Linked DNA regions of Homo sapiens: region 1 is linked to region 2. The links come from fine-mapping of genetic effects on gene expression. A gene starts in region 2. The other region holds a variant in brackets. All regions are shown on one strand. Distances are between the middles of the regions.

What was found.
Region 1: its variant is fine-mapped to the expression of ADAP2 in whole blood (TOPMed, PIP 0.96).

Annotation. Positions count from the first base shown.
Region 1 is chr17:30,955,844-30,961,212 of GRCh38, reverse strand. It overlaps ADAP2 (ArfGAP with dual PH domains 2), which reads right to left. Exons shown (of 11, transcript NM_018404.3): 10 at 4,744-4,972; 11 at 1,891-3,378. The coding sequence ends at 3,344. It also overlaps a transcript of RNF135 not described here and the pseudogene RN7SL138P. Among named protein-coding and RNA genes, the nearest start is that of RNF135, 13 kb to the left of the region's middle. RefSeq lists a silencer at 691-740 and enhancers at 2,867-3,366, 3,950-3,999. The variant C/T (reference allele first, on the strand shown) is at 2,213.
Region 2 is chr17:30,919,148-30,924,516 of GRCh38, reverse strand. ADAP2 (ArfGAP with dual PH domains 2) reads right to left here and starts at 2,572. Exons shown (of 11, transcript NM_018404.3): 1 at 2,409-2,572; 2 at 1,447-1,577. The coding sequence starts at 2,502. RefSeq lists silencers at 1,882-2,041, 2,202-2,251, 2,392-2,831.

The sequences.
Region 1 (5,369 bases), 37 kb before region 2:
TAATTTGTTCCTTTTTATTGCTAAGCAGCATTCCACTGGATAAACAAGGTATGGTATAGCCATATAGTGGAATACTTCTTAGCAATAAGGAAAGACATATTGACACATGCAGTGACTTTGATGAATCTCAAAGGTATCATGTGCTGTGAAAGAATCCAGTCTTTAAAAATTACAGGCCTGGCGTGGTGGCTCATGCCTGTAATCCCAGCACTTTGGGAGGCCGAGGCAGGTGGATCACGAGGTTGGGAGATCGAGACCCTCCTGGCTAACATGATGAAACCCTGTCTCTACTAAAAATACAAAAAATTAGCCAGGCATAGTGGCGGGCGCCTGTAGTCCCAGCTACTCGGGAGGCTGAGGCAGGAGAATGGCGTGAACCCGGGAGGCGGAGCTTGCAGCGAGCCGAGATTGCGCCACTGCACTCCAGCCTGGGCGACAGAGCAAGACTCTGTCTCAAAAAAAAAAAAATAAAATAAAATAAATAAAATAAAATAAAATAAAATAAAATAAAAATTACATATTAAATGATTCCATTTATATGGCATTTTTGAAAGTACAATCTATAATGATGAACGGATCAATGGTTGCCACGGGGCAGGGGAAGGGTGTGGCTACAAGGGAGTTTTGGGGTGTGACATAACTGTTCTTTGCTGAAGCAGAGTCTCACTCTGTCACCCAGGCTGGAGTGCAGTGGTGAGACCATAGCTCACTGCAGTCTTGAAATCTCAGGCTTAAGTGGGAGTTCAGCCTTGAGTAGCTGGGACTACAGGCACATGCCACCATGCCTGGCTTTTTTTTTTTTCTTTTTCTTTTTCTTTTTTTGAGACGGAGTCTCACTCTGTCGCCAGGCTGGAGTGCAGTGGCGCAATCTTGGTTCACTGCAACCTCCGCCTGCCGGGTTCAAGCGATTCTCCTGCCTCAGCTTCCTGAGTAGCTGGGACTACAGGCACGTGCCACCACAGTCAGCTAATTTTTGTATTTTTAGTAGAGACGGGGTTTCACCATGTTGGCCAGGATGGTCTTGATCTCCTGACCTCATGATCTGCCTGCCTCGGCCTCCCAAAGTGCTAGGATTATAGGCGTGAGCCACCGTGCCCGGCCAATAAATTTCTTTCTATAGCCATATATATATATATGTATATCATTGGTTCTGTTTCTCTGGAGAACGCTAATACAAGTGAAGTGTGATTCAAATTTTCTTTTCTTTTTCTTTTTTTTTTTTTTGGAGACGGAGTCTCACTCTGTCACCCAGGCTGGAGTGCATAACCCCCCAGGCCCAAGCAAGCCTCCCACCTCTGCCTCCTGAGTAGCTGGGACTACAGGCATGCATTACAGTGCCCATGCCTAGCTATTTTCTTTTTTTAGACGGAGTTTCCCTCTTGTCGCCCAGGCTGCAGTGCAATGGCTGTTCACAGGCATGATCCCTCTACTGACCAGCACGGAAGTGCTTCATTTCTGATCTGGGCCAGTTCACCCCTCCTTAGGCAAACTGGTGATTCCTCACTCCTGGGAGGTCACCATGTTGATGCCAAATTTAGTGTGGACACCCAATTAGCATTGTGCACTAAAGCCCAGAACTCCTGGGCTCAAATGATCTTCCCACCTCACCCTCCCCAGTAGCTAGGACTACAGGCACGTGCACACCTGATATCTCTGAGCCTTTACACATGCTTCTTTCTCTGCCTCCTCCCACCCCAACCCAACTATCTTCTACTCTTTCTTCAGGATTCAGCATAGGTATCATCTCTTTTAGAGAACTTTATCTGTCAGGACTGATTCAAGTAATAGAAACTTCCTTGCACTAACAAGCCAAAAAGGGAAAAAGGGATTTAATATAAGAGTATAGAAGCATACTCTTCCTTGAGGAAGGAATCATCCAAAACCAAGCACTCCATTTCATTAGGACTTTATCTCTTGTGTCTGTTCTTTCCCACCCTTAGAATCCCAGTTGGCCTCTTCAAGTAGCTTTGTTACTGCCTATCTATACTTCTCGTTCTTCTCCTCTAGACCATAAGTTCCTTGAAGGCAAGACTGTACCTTTATTAATTTCCTCATCCCCAGAACTTAGCAGAGTACACCCAACAGAGTTCACAGGTGGTCAAAGAGGCAGACAAGTAAACTGGCCCTTAATGCACAACCCAGCAAGTGTCCTTGAAAATGCACATTTTCAAGGTGCTTCCAGAGCCAGAGGAGATAGAGAGGACTCACCTCC[C/T]TATCTGGGCAGTCGAGAAGCTTCAGGAAGGACACAGGCTTACGCATTGCTTATCCTTTGATTGGGGGATCCAAAGGAAAGTCCCATACAATGCATAGATTTTTTTTTTTTTTGAGATAGGGTCTCACTCTGTCACCCAGGCTAAGTAAAGTGGTGCAATGAGGGGTCACTGTAGCCATGACCTCCCTGGCTCAAGTGATCCTCTCACATCAGTGTCCGGAGTAGCTGGGACTACAGGCATTCATTACCATGTCCAGCTAATTTTTTTTTCTTTGTAGAGATGGGGTCTCACTATGTTGCCCAGGCTCTTCTCGAACTCCTGGTCTCAATCCTCCTGCCTCAGCTTCCCAAAGGGCTGGGATTATGGGCATGAGCCATCACACCCAGCCACGGAGAATCAGAGAGTCTCTTAAGAGACCTCCCAGCTCCTTGGGTCTCCATTGAAGCAAAGAGAGAACATCCAGTGTATTTCTGCGTGGTGCTTGAAGACAGAGGAAAGGAACAACGAGTCACAGAGCAGGGGACTTGGTGCTCTGTTTCTCTAACATTTCAGCCATCTGAGATTTCATTCAGTTCCTCTTTTTCTTTCTGATACGGAGTCTCGCTCTGTCACCCAGGCTGGAATGCAATGGCGCAATCTCACTGCGCCCGGCCATTGACTACTTTATCTTTCACTCTTCATTTTTGAAGAGTCTGGGTCAGATGTTTAGCAGAATGCCCCTAATGTGGATTTGTCTGATTATTTCCTCATGGTTAGATTCAGATTAAACTTTTTTTTTTTTTTTACAAGATGCCACTTGCATGATGCTGTGGGTGCCTTTTCATTGCAATGCCTCCATTTCAGATGTGAGAAAGTTCTGGGCCTGTAGGGCATTTCAAGCCTAGGTGTGTATGGGGGAGGAGGGGATAGATGTTCATCTATGCACCAGATCCTCAGATCCCCGAGGTGGGTTGCGGGGAAGGCCCAGGGAGCTGATGGATAAAGCCACAGCTTCAGTCCTGGCAGAGTTCACTGCCAGGAATGGCTGCTGACTGCGGGGCACTGATGGTGGGCAGCCAGGGCCGAGGTGCAAACTTCTTCCCACAAGGAGTTCCAGGTGTTCAGTGGCAGCCAGTTCCTCAGTTAATGGGTCACCTGCTGCTGCGGCCACTCTCTGTTGATGCAGCTGCAAGGGAAATGAAGAGGGCTGAGGGAGGTGGCCATGCCAATGCTGTCCTGTGGAGGAGAGGGACAGCAAAGGGACAGGCGTACAAAGACAGAGGGAGCCATGGCCGGGCACAGTGGCTCATGCCTGTAATCCCAGCACTTTGGGAGGCCGAGGCAGGTGGATCACTTGAGCTCAGGAGTTCGAGACCAGCCTGAGCAACATGGTGAAACTCTGTCTCTACCAAAAATACAAAACAAATTAGCTAGATGTGGTGTCACGAGCCTGTAGTCCCAGCTACTTGGGAGGCTGAGGTGAGAGGATTGCCTGAGCCCAGGAAGAAGAGGTTGCAGTGAGCTGAGATCGCACCACTGCACTCCAGCCTGGGTGACAGTGCAAGACCCCACCTCAAAAAAAGAAAATTAAAAAAAAAAACACAAAGACAGAGGGAGCCAGAATAAAAAACAGAATGAAAGAGTGAGAGCCAGGGCGTCAGAGGGAATGCACACACCAGCAAAGGAGAGAAAAGTGGAGGGACAGAGACAGAGAGAAACCAAGAGATTCATAAATGGCAGCCCACAGAGAAAAGAAAGCACCAGCTGATATGCCTCACTCACAATTTGCAAGTCCCTTTCTGAGGTTCTCTGGCTTTGGCCTTTATGGGACAGTCAAGAGAGTCTGTGTTTATATCAGTCAGACTCAAAGGGCACAAGTGTTTCCCCCAAGGGGCTGTGCGGGGGTCACCTGCTCAGTCTGTACTTTTCCAAACACAGAAATTCTCCTTTGTGCCCCAGAAGCCAGGTCCTGGGCCAGCAGTTTCCTGCCGGAGCTCGGCATGTCTCCCCTTTTTTCACAGGGCTGTCAGCATTGAGGAAGCCCTACTGGTAAAGAGGAGGAACAGGAGAGAGGCAGACAGAAGGGAGGACTCAAAGAAAAGAAGCCACTAGAAATAGCCTTCCCTCTGGAGTGGGGAGGAATCCAAAAATCCCAGGAGCTGCCCAGCGGGTGTGACCTTAGCTAATAATAACAGGCCAGCGTTTTCTCACGAGAAAAAGGATCAGCATAGAGCACGGTGGAGGGAAAGAGAAGCTGCTTAGCCCCCACACCGCAAGGGGTACAGACAGCACCCAGGGGTTCTGCCAGGGCCAAACTCCTCTAAAAGCTCCTGGGGAAGGGCTCGGTTAGGGGAACCCAGAGTGGACAGAGGAGACCTTTTGGCAATAATGGCATGTCTGTGCTTTTCTTTTGCAGGAAGAGAAGACAATGAAAAGAGCATAGTCAGGAATCAGGAATCTTTTGTGGTATCAAAGCTGAACCTAAGTGAAGAAGCAATTTTCTGTCCTCTGCCCTTGTCCAAAAGAACACCCCTCAGTTCCTGCTTCTTACTAAGCCGGTTGAGGGGCGTCAAGGGGCTGGACAGGACACCCCGCAAACTTTCCAGCCATTCCTGCTGTTCCTTCTCACTGGGGCAAGTGAGGACAAATCTCCGCTCTGGGGTGACAATGGTGAGTCCGGCTTTCCAGCGATTTCCTCGGATGCCCTTGGGCAGGTCTTCGTAGGCTTCATATCCCTGCTCCTTGTTCCCAAGAAAAACCTGGCCCTGCTCGAAGGCATCCTGAAAATGGAGAGTACAGGGTCATCAGAGGGTGCCCCCAGGGCAGAGGGGCCCTGCAGCCCTGACAGCCTCCAAGCTTTATTTTGGGAAAGGGGTATGAGGTCCCTGCTGGGATTTCTGCTAAGTGGGACCCAGAATTTGAAAGATCAAAACCCTAAAATAAATCATACACATCATCTATTGAAAAGATACCGAGGGTGGGCCTGGTAGTTCATGCCTGTAATCCTAGCACTTTGGGAAGCCAAGGCAGAGGATTGCCTGAGGCCAGGAATATGAGACCAACCGGGACAACATAGTGAGACCCCTTCTCTACAAAAAAAAATTATTAATTATTATTATGAATTGTTTTTGGAGACAGGGCCTCACTCTGTCACCCAGGCTGGAAGTGCAGTGGCAC
Region 2 (5,369 bases):
TATCCTCCACCCCCAGAGGGCAGGAGAGCAAAGTGGTCCTCTTTCTGCCTAGGGGGAAAGGAGGACTTTAGACCACAAATCAGGTTATTTCCCTTCCCCCAGTCCAAGACTTCACTAATGATAACAGCAACTTTTTTTTTTTTTTTGAGGTAGGGTCTCACTCTCACCCTGGCTGGAGTGCAGTGGTGCGATCTCAGCTCATTGCAGCCACACTCTCACAGGCTCAGGTGATCTTCCCACCCCAGCCCCCGAAGTATCTGGGACGACAGGCGCATGCCATCACACCCAGCTAATTTTTGTATTTTTTGTAAAGACGGGGTTTCACCATGTTGCCCAGGCTGCTCTTGAACTTCTGGGCTCAAGCAATCCACCAGCCTCAGCCCCCCAAAGTGCTGGGATTATAGGTGTGAGCCACCACACCCGTACAACAGCAACTGTTAACTGACAGCTTTCTTTGTGTCTGGACTGAGCCTACAATCATCTTCACAACAGTGCTGTGACATTGGTGGTAGTGGCCAGGCACAGTGGCCCACGCCTGTAATCCCAGCACTTTGGGAGGCCGAGGAGGGTGGATTACCCAAGGTCAGGAGTTCGAGACCAGACTGACCAACATGGCAAAACCCCGTCTCTGCTAAAAATTAATACAAAAATTAGCGGGGCATGGTGGTGGGTGCCTGTAATCCCAGCTACTCAGGAGGCTGAGGCAGGAGAATTGCTTGAACCCAAGAGGCAGAGGTTGCAGTGAGCCGAGATTGGCCGTTGCACTCCAGCCTGGGCGACAAGAGTGAAACTCCGTCTCAAAAAAAAAAAAAAAAAAAAAAAAGGAAGAAAGAAAAAAAGAGAAATGGTGGTGGTATCCCTTGAATACAGATGTGGAAACTGAGGGTCCACAGCTAGGTCAAAGTACCTAGCTCAGGGCCTCCCAGCTTATAGGTAAGCAAATGATGGCCAGGAGCGGTTCAGGATGGTTCAGGCCTGTAATCCCAGCACTTTGGGAGGCTGAGGTGGTGGATCGCCTGAGGTCAGGAGTTCGAGACCAGCGTGACCAACATGGTGAAACCCCGTCTCTACTAAGTACAAAAAAATTAGCCGGGTGTGGTGGCAGGCGCCTGTAATCCCAGCTGCTTGAGAAGCTGAGGCAGGAGAATTACTTGAACCCGGGAGGCAGCGGTTGCAGTGAGCCAAGATTGCTCCACTGCACTCCAGCCTGGACAACACAGCGAGACTCCGTCTCAAAAAAAAAAAAAAAAAAGTAAGCAAATGATAGAGCCAGAATTTGAACTCTCGGCCTCTGTCTAAGCTGCCATCTTATAAGCTGTGTTTCCTCTAGCTAGACTTGCCCCTCTCTGGTTCTCAGTTTCCCCCTCTGTAGAATGGGAGCCCCCTGCCCGCTGCCTCTACTCCAGTCCCGCAGTTCCATGGCTCTCCACGGGCATGCCTTTCTACCTCCACAATACTGTCGTCCCAGAAGTCAAGTCGCACAGATTTAACTCTGCTGATGTCAGGGAAGTTACGGTGGACGCCGCAGCAGTTGAGACAGATGAAGATCCCCAGCTTGTAAGAGGCCCAGTCGGGATCTGCAGGGGATGAGGCAGGAGAGGAGCTGAGCGGAAAGCGCGGTGAAGAAACCAGGGCTGGGCTCGGGGCACTGGGGCAGGTGGGGCGCCCCTTCTCCCACCTAAGGCGAACTAAGCGGCCAGCCTGGCACCTTCTGGTTAGCCCACCGGCCGCTGCGCGGCGACCGGGGTGAAGATCCTGGAGGCAGTTCAGGGCCCGGGGAGAGAGTCTGAGGCTGCGCGACGTGGAAGTGAAGGGACTCAGAAGGAACCGAGAGGAGGGCGCGGGGGGCGCACCGCGGGGCTCGGCGCGGAGCTGCAGGTGGGGAGGCTGAGTTAGGGGGCCCTCGGCGTCCCCGAGGTGGGGCGCTGGGGAGGCCTTCGGGGGGCGTCTGGGAGCGGGCAGGGGGCACAGGACTGTCGGCGGCCTGGGCCCGACGTTTAGCCCTGGCTGGGATGTCTGAGTCCGAGGGCGTGGGGCGCGCCTGGGTGCGCAGACATCGAGAGCCCGGACTCGGGCGGTCGGGTGCCTGGCCAGGGAAGAGAGCGGGACTGGAAGGGCTCTAGGCTGCCGGCTCTCGTGTCCGGGTCCAAGCACGTGGGAAGATGCGCATCTGGTCCCGCGAGGGGAGCAGAGCCTGGGCTCGTAGGGGCCGGGGCAGGGTGTGGTGGAGACGGCCCTCGGGGCTCGGGTGAGAGGTTCACGGTGTGGGTGGGAGGGGTCGGGGCCCGCAGGTGCCACGTCTGGGTCCAGGGGGCCGAGGGCGGGACCCGGTGGGGCCGAGGGGAGGAGTCGGGTGGGCCTGGGGTCCGGCCGGGGGTCTCGCGCTGCCCGCGCCGCCGCGCCCTTACCTGCCGCCCCGCAGTCGGCGCAGTGCGCGTTGCCTGTGTCCGGCGCCCGCAGCAGCTCCAGCAGCCGCTTCTTGTTGCGCTCGCGATCGCCCATGGCCGGCCCGGCGGGCTCAGCGGGGCTCAGCCCATGGCCCGTGCGCTCCGCCCGGCAGGTGGAGAGGGACCCGGCCGCGGCGCCTCAGCCAGGCCTGGGCAGCCGCCAGCCCCGCCCCGCACCGTCAGGACTGTCCGCCCCTCCCTCGGCAGGTCCAGTCCGGCCCCGAGCTCCGCCGACGCGCGGGGAGGGACAGGAGCACGCAAATTGGAGTTTAACACACTGGCCTGAGATCAAATCGTGGCCTGTCACTTGGTAGCTACGAGACTGTGGACAACCTATTCAACCTCTGTGGGTCTCAGTTTCCGCGTCTATGAAAGAGGAACAAGGGCATATGTCTGCATCTCAGCGCTTCTTGGAAAATTAACCAGAATCTAACTTCTGTTAAAGCGTTCTGTTAATGTAAGATCTTACATCTATTTGGAGACGTATTTATATGCAAATGCCACCTCCTCAGGAAGCCCTCTGTGATACCCTGCCTGGAGTAATCTTTCCAGCCTCTGGGTCTCCAAGAATACTCTTGTAGTATCTGTCTATTTGTTTTGGACCTGAGCACTTTCTATCTACCTTGCATCACGGTTATTTATATACTTGTGTTAATTCCACTCTCTGACCGCAGACACATACACATGTCCACACCAGGGAGTTTGACGTCAGCAGTTTTATGTCTGTATTCCATATTGCTCCTATAAATGATACCTGCACATTTTTAGAAGTCCAACTAATAGTTGCATGATTTTGTTCACCAGAAAAGTGTGGTTTCACCAAGGTGGACACAGCCAGGCACTTTAACCTGTGAAGTTCCATCACCGCGAGGTGAAGGCAGGGTATAGGTGGTCTTAAATGTGGGCATTTCATTTCCTCTTTCCCTCTCTCCCATCTTTGTTACTGCTTGACATCATCTTCGTTACTCCTTGACATCATCTGCAATGACTCATGGGCCTCCTGGTGAAATATATACTGTACATACTTGCCATCTTCTATGTAGGTTAATACCTTAATGCACACAGATGCATTAAGCCATATGCATATGATAGACAGGTGTTAACCTTCAGGATAAAATCAGGTTTCCATCCTGGTGAATTGCAGCTGATGTTCTAGCTGACCTGCCCACACTCCCATTCAACATACATGCGGGCGCAAGCACACACGTGCACACACACGCACAGCAATATGGTGTAATGGAATGAATTCAGGAATCCAGAAATTCAGGCTTTAAATGTTGACTCCTTCATTTCCACATTTCCCAACTGTTTGTCTCTGGGCAAGTTCCTTCACTTCTCTGAGCCTCCAAACCCTCAACTGTTAAATGGAGAGCGTAAGATCCACTAATAGGGTCATTGAAATGGCACAAAGAAACCCTCCAAACATGGTGGCCTCCTTGCTTCCCCTGCCCCTATGGTCAGCTTGTGGAATTGTCGCTTGGAATGCTGTGTGTGATTCCCGTCATCCCTGGGGTGGAGGAGGTCAAGCTGCCAGGACTGAGCAGGAAGGGAGGGTGGAGAGTATTACCAAGAATAGCCAGCCATGAGGGGGTCTTGCCTGTGAGGGGGTGAGGCCTAGCCCAGGAGCAGCCACAGAGGAACCAGTGAGAGAGTCAGCTGGGGTCAGGGGGCATGGGGCTGTTTATTAAACCGGCTGAAAGATGATTCATTTCCGTTGCTTTAGATGAAAAAAGGGACAGAAATAAATCTCCCAGGAGAAAGATGGGAAAGTCAACTTAAGGTATGAAGGCAAAGGAAAGAGGGAGAGAGGGAGAAGAGGAGACAAGCTAAGGACATTTCTCCTCTGCCCAACACTGGGACAAAATTGTGATGCTGGGGGTGCTTCCTCGGCACCCGAGCCTTCACCAGTCTGTGCTCCTTTGCTTCTCTGACACCTTAGGTCTCACTGCCACCTCCCTGTAGGTCCCACAAAAGCCAACCCAGTTCTAAGTAGGCTCTGGTTGAATCTCAGAAACTTTAAAAAAAGCCGGGCGCAGTGGCTCACGCCTGTAATCCCAGCACTTTGGGAGGCCGAGGGGGGCGGATCACGAGGTCAGGAGATCGAGACCATCCTGGATAACACGGTGAAACCCCGTCTCTACTAAAAATACAAAAAAATGGCTGGGTGTGGTGGTGGGCGCCTGTAGTCCCAGTTACTTGGGAGGCTGAGGCAGGAGAATGGCATGAACCCAGGAGGCGGAGTTTGCAGTAAGCCGAGATCGCACCACTGCACTCCAGCCTGGGCGACAGAGTGAGACTCTGTCTCAAAAAAAAAAAAAAAAAATTAAAAAAAAAAAGAAAAAGAAAAAGAAAAAAAATAGCCAATCCAAGAGAACATACAGTATCTCATTCATAGTGAGGAGCCAGAGATTGAGAGATTCCTTTAGTTTCCCCTCTTCCCTTCCTTATTTCTGGAGGTTCCCATCAAACAGCCTTAATGTGGCATTTCAGGCATCCTCAGAGCAAAACAATGTACTCTGGTATTTTGTTTATAATGCTTTCTTTTCTTTTCCCTTCTTTTTTCTTTTCTTTGTTTCTTTCTTTTTTTTTTTTTTTTTTTTTTTTTGGTGGTGGTGGTTGTAGGACAATGCTAATGAACAATTACTGAGTGTTTTTTTTACAAGAGCGTCACACATTTGATCATATTTTAGCTTCATGACACCCTCAGAGGGCAGCATCACATCAGGCCACTTTACAGAAGAGAAAGCTGAGCCTCAGAGGATTTAAGTTACCCAAGGTCATGGAGCCAAATAAGAAGCGGAACAGGGCCTAAATCCAGATCTCCTACTGTGGCTCAGTCAGTCCCAGGTGATTTCATGAAACCTCCCTTTAGTGCATTCTGGACTTTTTTTTTTCTTTTTTTACTTAAATTGTGGTTCGGTT